2 linked regions of the Homo sapiens genome follow. The protein of the gene in region 2 interacts with the protein of the main gene of each other region in a pairwise test. Each region holds a gene or a part of one and is shown on either strand. Other genes may lie near its edges.

Region 1 (3,817 bases), on a different chromosome or scaffold from region 2:
AAGCCAAATCTAAGGTTCCAATTAAGAGAATTAATCTGGAAGCTGGAAGTCTGGGATTAGCGCTCCTGTGAAAATAGATATGAGGCCATGGTATAGAATCTTCTTACTGTCTGAGGGATTTTGCCCAAAGCATCAGCAATTGCCATAGCTTTCTTCTCTGGAATTTCTGAGACCATTGATCCCAAAGAGAAAACCACAATTCCATGTTCTCCAGAAGCATTAATGTAGGCTTCAAATTCCTAGAGCCAGAAGAAAAATTTTCAGTTAATTTTTTCTCATATTCTTTGATGACTACATACAGTAAGTTATGAATTAGATATCTTCCTCTTAAGACTATGATTAAAGGCATGCGTGTTTGAGATAGAGTAAAAAATTATTAATATGTAAGTTTTACAGCATTTTCCTCTCCTTTACTTCCTTCTAAAGGAGGAAGGGTTCCTGCTTACAGAATTATCCTTGAGATGCAAAATCCAGGTAATGTGCTAGTTTTCCAAAAGAAAAGCACAGGTACATGCACACACATGCACACACCTGTACATACACACAGTGATAATTCCACTTAGAGAACACAGAGCAAGGCATCAGTGATACAGAAGGGAAGAGCTGGGAAGGGCGTGGTCCCTTTAAATGATATGGAAGTAGGGAAGGGAAGTGCTGGGTAGAAGAGGGTGTGGTCCCTGGCGAGGGCTCCACCCCCAGACCTGTGCCCATGGACCTAGGTGAGGACAGGCATTTTTGTTTTCCTGCCTAAATGTTTCATTTCCCAAAACCACCCTGGCCTGCCACGCCCCCATCATGTGCCTATAAAAACCCCAAGACCCTAGCAGGCAGACACACAGGTAGCTGGACATCGGGAGGAGCACATCAGCGGAGGGACGCAAGGACAGCTGGACATTGAGAAGAACTCACCAACAGGCACCGGCAGGCCACTGACCAGCAGAACAACGCGGAGTTTGGCTGAGGCAGTCGGAGGAGAGCCCAGGCCACCGAGCCCGGGCCACCGAGCCCGGGCCACTGAGCGGTCTGACTCCAGGGGAAACCCTTCCCATTCCATCCCCTTCTGGCTTCCCCCATCTGCTGAGAGCTACATCCACTCAATAAATCCTTGCACTCATTCTCCAAGCCCAGGTGGGATTCGATTCTTCTGGTACACCAAGGCAAGCCCCCAGGATACAGAAAGCCCTCTGTCCTTGCGACAAGGTAGAGGGTGTAATTGAGCTGGTTAACACAAGCTGACTATAGAGGGCAAAACTAAAAGAAGGCCATAACCCACGCCCACTGGAGCTTCAGGAGCTGTAAACATCCACCTCTAGACACTGCCGGTGAGGTCAGAGCCCCACAACCTGCCCGTCTGTATGCTCCCCTAGAGGTTTGAGCAGTGGCGCACTGAGAAAGTGAGCCCCTCCCGCTGTCACATGCTCTGTGAGGGGGACAAGGAAAGTTTTCCTGTTTCATCAACATGGCAATTCTTTTCTCACTGTAGATTTTCAGTGGTCCAATGAATCCCCCAAGAATCTCTCAAATGGCTTTATGGGTTTATTTATTATTATTATTATTATTAATTATTATTATTATTATTTACTTGAAGTTCTGGGATACATATGCCATGGTGGTTTGCTGCACCTATTGACCTATCCTCTAAGTTCCTCCCCTCACCCCTCACCCCGCCACAAGCCCTGGTGTGTGTTGTTCCCCTCCCTGCGTCTACGCATTCTCACTGTTCAACTCCCACTTATGAGTGAGAACATGCGGTGTTTGATTTTCTGTTCCTGTGTTAGTTTGTGGAGGATGATGGCTTCCAGCTTCATCCATGTCCTTGCAAAGAATATGATCTCATTCCTTGTTATGGCTGCATAGTATTCCATGGTGTATATGTACCACATTTTCTTTATCCAATCTACCATTGATGGGCATCTGGGTTGGTTCCATGACTTTGTTATTGTGAATAGTGCTGCAATAAACAAATATGTGCATGTGTCTTTATAGTAGAATAATTTATATTTCTTTGGGTATATACCCAGTAATGGGATTACTGAGTCTATGGTTTTATGTTTGCAAAGAATACTGAGGGCACTAATATGATTGTGTGATGTGGCAGGGCTTGCCCAAACTGAGGGGTTCCCTAGGACATGTGATGTTCAGTGCTAAAACCTGAACAGTCCTGAGGAAGCCAGGATGCTGGTCACCCTAGATGTGAGACACAGGAGACCTCTGACAGGGCTCAGCAAACGCAATTTGCACAGCAGGACTCCTGCCAAGCCTGATTTGGAACATGACCAGGAAAGCCCCAGACACTGACCATCCTTCTCCCAAGGTGAGCCCTCTCTCCCCGCCACTCTCACCAGCCCCAGGCCCTCGTGAGTCCTCTGGCTCTTAAGGGCTTTGTCTTTGCCTTTTCCCTTGGGCTCATCTAAAAGTCAGGGAGGACAGAGTCATCCTCCCCACCACCATGCTGCATTTTTTGGTTTGTAGCAAGAACACCCTGAGGATGGTTTTTCTGAACTCCTTCCTCCCTAGGGTCTGCACCACATCTCTCCCCTCTTTCTCTCCCTCTTTCTTGGGGAGACACAGCTCATTTCCAAGTGCTCTTCAAGTTCTTTCTTCTGAGCGTTGGTAAATGGCTTACTTAAATTTCCTAGGACCTTTGCTCTTCATGAAACCCACTCTTACACTGAAGCTCATCTGGAAAAGGCCGAGTCTAAGTTCTCCTCCAGGCACACCCTCCCACACGCCCACTCAGCAATCAGCAGGATGTGATTCACACAAAATTGAACCCACAGGTCCATAAACATTCGAAGTTAAATAGCAGGAGATCACGAAAGTTTAAATGGCACAAAAGTTCATCTGGAGATTCACGCAGGGCAAACTGCAGAGAAGTTGTCATCACGGCCAACTCCTACCTGAGCCAGCTACTATGAGGCTCAATAAAGGTGAAGTCCATCCCCTACTTGGCAAAGCTTCCCTTAAACTTCACCCTGACTTCACAGTTACCGGAATGACCAAAGAGTGAAGCAACATATTAACTGAAAATAACACTCCAATCCCCCACCATTGATTCCCTTCAAAGAAAAGATGAGATGCCCCTGAATGAGAGAATTTCCCTGTTCTGATGAGACTTCACCAGCCAAAATGAGACATTTAACATAACTCCTAAACTTTACCAAGAATTTTGTATTTTTAGTTTAGGCTTTTAATTAGATTTTCCCTTCCCAAATGCATTTCATTTTCCCAGAATTCTTCTTTAGCACTTAGACACCATGTGGGTCATCTGTGACTTCACCATCACGCATTCCCAGTAACCCACATATATCTCAACCTTCCCTGCTCCCAAGCTTTCCTCTCCTGGCCATCTCGAAGCCTTGGTCCTCACTAATCTTCTGTTTAGTTATTTTTCTCAGACCCAGCATTGCGATTGTCTGTGAACCACTGCTATCTTACCCTGGCAGGGGAGGAACATCTTGGAATTCTTGAGTTTCATTCCTTTTCTCCCAATGTTGTTCCACTATCTCTTTTCCTTCAGACACACCAAAGACACGCCAATGCCAGGTTGTGCTTTCTCTATGGACTTCTTTGTGCAATAAAAGTTTTATCTTTATTCTTAAAGTTCAGGAGTTTTATCAAGAGTATTGAGAATAGGACCATCAACACAAGAGGAATGGTAGTGCAGAGTGGCATTTTTAGTTAACAAAGGAAGAAAGAGAAAATAAGAACAGTAACTTGACCAACCAGTAGAAATCCGGAAAAAGGAGAATGGCAAAGTCAACTAAACATAAAGTAAACTGAGAGAGTTACAATCAAATCTATTAATTGTTAGATT
Region 2 (3,817 bases):
TAATTTTTGTATTTTTCTGTAGAGACAGGGTTTCACCATGTTGCCCAGACTGGTCTCGAACTGCTGGACTCAAGCAACCCGCCAATCTCGGCCTCCCAAAGTGCTGGGATTACAGGCCTGAGCCACCATGCCCAGACTTTGACACACTGATTTAATTGTTAACCTCTTTTTACTGAAGTTGAACCTCGAAGTCATGGAGTGAACAGGTGGCAGAGCCAATCATAAAAACCATATTCTTTCTCCTTGTTCATTGCTGACATTCTTTGATAGTCACGTCCCTAAACCCAAGTGAGGCCCTCAGAGCACTGACCACTAAAGACCAATTACTTTTCCATCAAAGTGCAAAGTGGTAATTCAAACTTCCTTTAACTGTCAAGCATCCTGGGCTACAGAGCCAAGAAGATAATCAACAATCAAAAGGTGATACGATTATTTCAAGTTCCCCTCTTTAGAGTTCATGGCTGTTGCTGATGATGCTGGTGCCAGAGTAGTGTTTTAACCTTAGCGCTCTCCCATGGTAACCACAAAGGCAGCAGGAGGGCAGGTGGGAGGTTCCAGAGTTGTCAGCACGTTGGTGAAATGCCTGCCCTCATTTTAACGACGCCGTGGATGTTTGTGTTTGCCTTCCGTTGGCTGTTTCAAACTTAACTTTCTAGTTTGACAATCATATTTTACCTTCAGTGATTCTTTTGTTTCAGAACTGATTGTGTCCTCTAATAGCTAACTAATATTTTTGTATATTTTGATTATTTCTAGTAATTTTTGTTAATTTTATTCATATATACACAATTTGGAAAATCCTCTTGCTGTAGTTATGAATACTTTTTATAGATGCTAAGATTTTAAAATTGCTGGAATAGATAATAAATTTGCAATTTTATTTTTAAATGACTTACCTTTTTTCCCCTACTGTGTCAGGAACCTTAAAGGCGGTGTTTCAAGGTTGGTGGGTCTCATAACTGCTTTGCTTGCTTTTCCCTGAAAGGGGTCTGTCTTTTCACGGGAGTTTCTCTAACGTGCTTTGCAGAGTGATGCTTGCCTTACTGCAGGCCGCTGATTGTTTTGCTAATGCTTTTTATCTTTGCTTTGGGAAACTGCAGATCTGAAGCTGTCTTATTTATGGCAACTTCTGTTTGAGGCCCTAATGCTTATGTTGGTGTGGAACATCAAAAGAATGCTTCTTAACCCATTTTCAAGCCCCAAAAAGTTGATATTTCACTAGACCTTAGCTTTTCAGCTGTTGGAGAAGTATGCGTTTTTCCAGAACCATTGTCCATTCACTTTAGTGCTACTCAAAAGAGCTGCTCCCAGAAAGCTCTGGAGGATAAAAACAGGGCTTCCTTATCTGGGGATTTGCTGTTAGGCTGACAGTGACCAGCTGGTGACAAGTGTGACGCCGGGCACAGCAGTCCTGTGAGGCTGGTCTGGTGTCTTGCTGGTTCCGTCTGGTCAGAATTAAAGCAGCCCCCCGGGAAAGTTGGCCTAGAATGTAGAACTTAAAATGGCAGTCCTCTTTTTTCTTTTTGGTTCACATATATTTAATGTAATTTAGGTACACTTTTTTACATCTGTCAGATTTGAATGAAATAACTGATGTTTTTATTGAACATTGTGTTCATGCTTTTGAAGAATTAAACTGCTTTTTCTAAAGGTGACGTGGGATTGTGTGTATGTGAACATGAATGTCTGTTTTCAGTTTCTGCATTATTTAGATGCCTAGCGTGTGCAAGATATTTTATGTAGCATATTAATTTTGAATGTTTTTAAATTATTGAGGTTATGTCCTTAAGTAAATATAATGATTAAAATGTTTTACTCTGGAAGAAAACAAAGTTAGGCATTTTAGTGAAAAGAAGTTTATAATTTTCCCTTTCGACATCTTCTGAAGAATGCATTGCATAAAATATTGTGTTCTTATTTTCAAACAGGATTTTAGTCAATGAAATAAGTTCAGCATTCCCTTGAACTTACTTTACTTTTTCCTCTCGTGTTTCAGGAAACTCTTATCACTACTATTGATTCTAGTTCCAGGTATGTGGTAGCTTTCTTTTAAAGCAGTAGTGGGTGGGAGGGCTCATGGGTCCAGGTTGGACAAGGTGCGTCCCCCACCTTCTGGGTTCCTGGGCCTGACACTGTGCTGTCTCAGCAACCTTCTGCTGAAGGCCAGACTGTTCAGAGCACTCAGCCTCAAACTTTCAGGTAGCCGACTGTGAACACTGTCCACAGCCACGTGATCTAGCTGGCTGGCTGCATCCACCCCAAGGAACAAACAGAACAATTGCATTTCCTTTTCCCCCAGGGCAGCATCTTAGGCGGCCAGTCCCACAGCACCTCCCTGGCTCATCCAAGCAGACATTTCCTTCCTTTCAATCCATGTCTGTTTCTTAAACTCTAGTGATTACATTTCCCTAAACATGGGTCAGTTTTCCTTTGTCATTTTTATTAGCTTTAAAGTTGAAGCTGGTAATCTATGTGTAGCACGACTCAATTGTTCTAGGCACCAGATTTGTTTATGATAGTCCAAGTGCACATTAACATCTTTGGCAGCTCTACCATATTGACTTCAGTAGTAGCCACTTTTTTGGACCCAAGCTCAAAACCACACATTTGTATTTCATCCTGTCAAATTTAACTGCCTCAGTCCGTTGGTGTTCTGGAATATTCCCTGCCTGCAGGCAGTATTTCACCTTACTCTTCATTAACAAGCCAGTTTCTTTCTAAAGTGAAATTGAAAAACCCCACCAAACCCCACTAAGACAAAAGTTACACTTGTAATTCTTATGAAAGTTTCACTTGTAATCCTTATGAAAGGATTATACTTGTAGTCCCTATGAAACACATATGTATACCAAGTCTATTTCTAAAGCCTACACATTAATTTCCATTTTTCTAAGAAATTAAGTCAAAGATCAAAATCTAAAGATTCAAATCTAATTTAAAGATTCAAATAGAGGCCAGGCGCGGTGGCTCACGCCTGTAATCCCAGCACTTTGGGAGGCCGAGGCAGGTGGATCACGAGGTCAGGAGATCGAGACCATCCTGGCTAACACAGTGAAACCCTGTCTCTACTAAAAATACAAAAAAATTAGCCGGGCATGGTGGCGGGCGCCTGTAGTTCCAGCTACTCGGGAGGCTGAGGCAGGAGAATGGTGTGAACCCAGGAGGCGGAGCTTGCAGTGAGCCAAGATCGTGCCACTGCACTCCAGCCTGAGCAACAGAGCAAGACTCTGTATCAAAAAAAAAAAAAAGATTCAAATAGAAATTATAGCTCATCCCTCCTTTGTCCCTGATTTGATTTGTAATCTGTAATTTATAGATCGAAATTCTATGCATCAGGACTGTAAATTTAGGCTTTTTTTTTTTTTTTTTTGGTGAATTTAGACCTGTGGACCACACACCAAGTAGTCTGGCCATTCTGTTTCTTAACCCTTTAAATCCACTTCAGCACAGGTAGTAAAGATTAGATTTTCCAAACCTAAGCTTAAAGCTGTGGTGTTAATGGCAGTGTTAATCATCACAGGGCCCATACTCTTCAACTTTACAGCTGGTGGGGCATTCATTTTTTGGTTTGTTTATTTTTGTTAGTTTGTTTTTGAGACAGTCTCGCTCTATCACACAGGCTGGAGTGCAGTGGCGTGATCTCGGCTCACTGCAACCTCTGCCTCCCAGGTTCAAGCGATTCTCCTGCCCCAGCCTCCCAAGTAGCTGGGATTACAATTAGCTACTGCCACCACGCCCAGCTACTTTTTGTATTTTTTGGTAGAAGGTTTTTACTATGTTGGCCAGGCTGGTCTCAAACTTCTGACCTCAAGTGATC

The links.
Region 1: the proteins of CYB5A (region 2) and UGT1A4 interact in a two-hybrid assay, tested with the Homo sapiens proteins (one large-scale study listed by BioGRID and IntAct).

What each region holds. Positions count from the first base shown.
Region 1 is NC_000002.12:233,763,456-233,767,272, reverse strand, and holds part of UGT1A4 (UDP-glucuronosyltransferase 1A4 precursor), read right to left. Parts: intron 240-3,817; coding exon 108-239; intron 1-107. Other genes in the region: UGT1A1 (UDP-glucuronosyltransferase 1A1 precursor), read right to left, coding at 108-239; UGT1A3 (UDP-glucuronosyltransferase 1A3 precursor), read right to left, coding at 108-239; UGT1A5 (UDP-glucuronosyltransferase 1A5 precursor), read right to left, coding at 108-239; UGT1A6 (UDP-glucuronosyltransferase 1A6 isoform 1 precursor), read right to left, coding at 108-239; UGT1A7 (UDP-glucuronosyltransferase 1A7 precursor), read right to left, coding at 108-239; UGT1A9 (UDP-glucuronosyltransferase 1A9 precursor), read right to left, coding at 108-239; UGT1A10 (UDP-glucuronosyltransferase 1A10 precursor), read right to left, coding at 108-239; UGT1A8 (UDP-glucuronosyltransferase 1A8 precursor), read right to left, coding at 108-239.
Region 2 is NC_000018.10:74,253,955-74,257,771, reverse strand, and holds part of CYB5A (cytochrome b5), read left to right. Parts: intron 1-918; coding exon of another isoform or gene 919-927; exon of another isoform or gene 928-1,833; intron 1,834-1,996; coding exon 1,997-2,031; intron 2,032-3,817.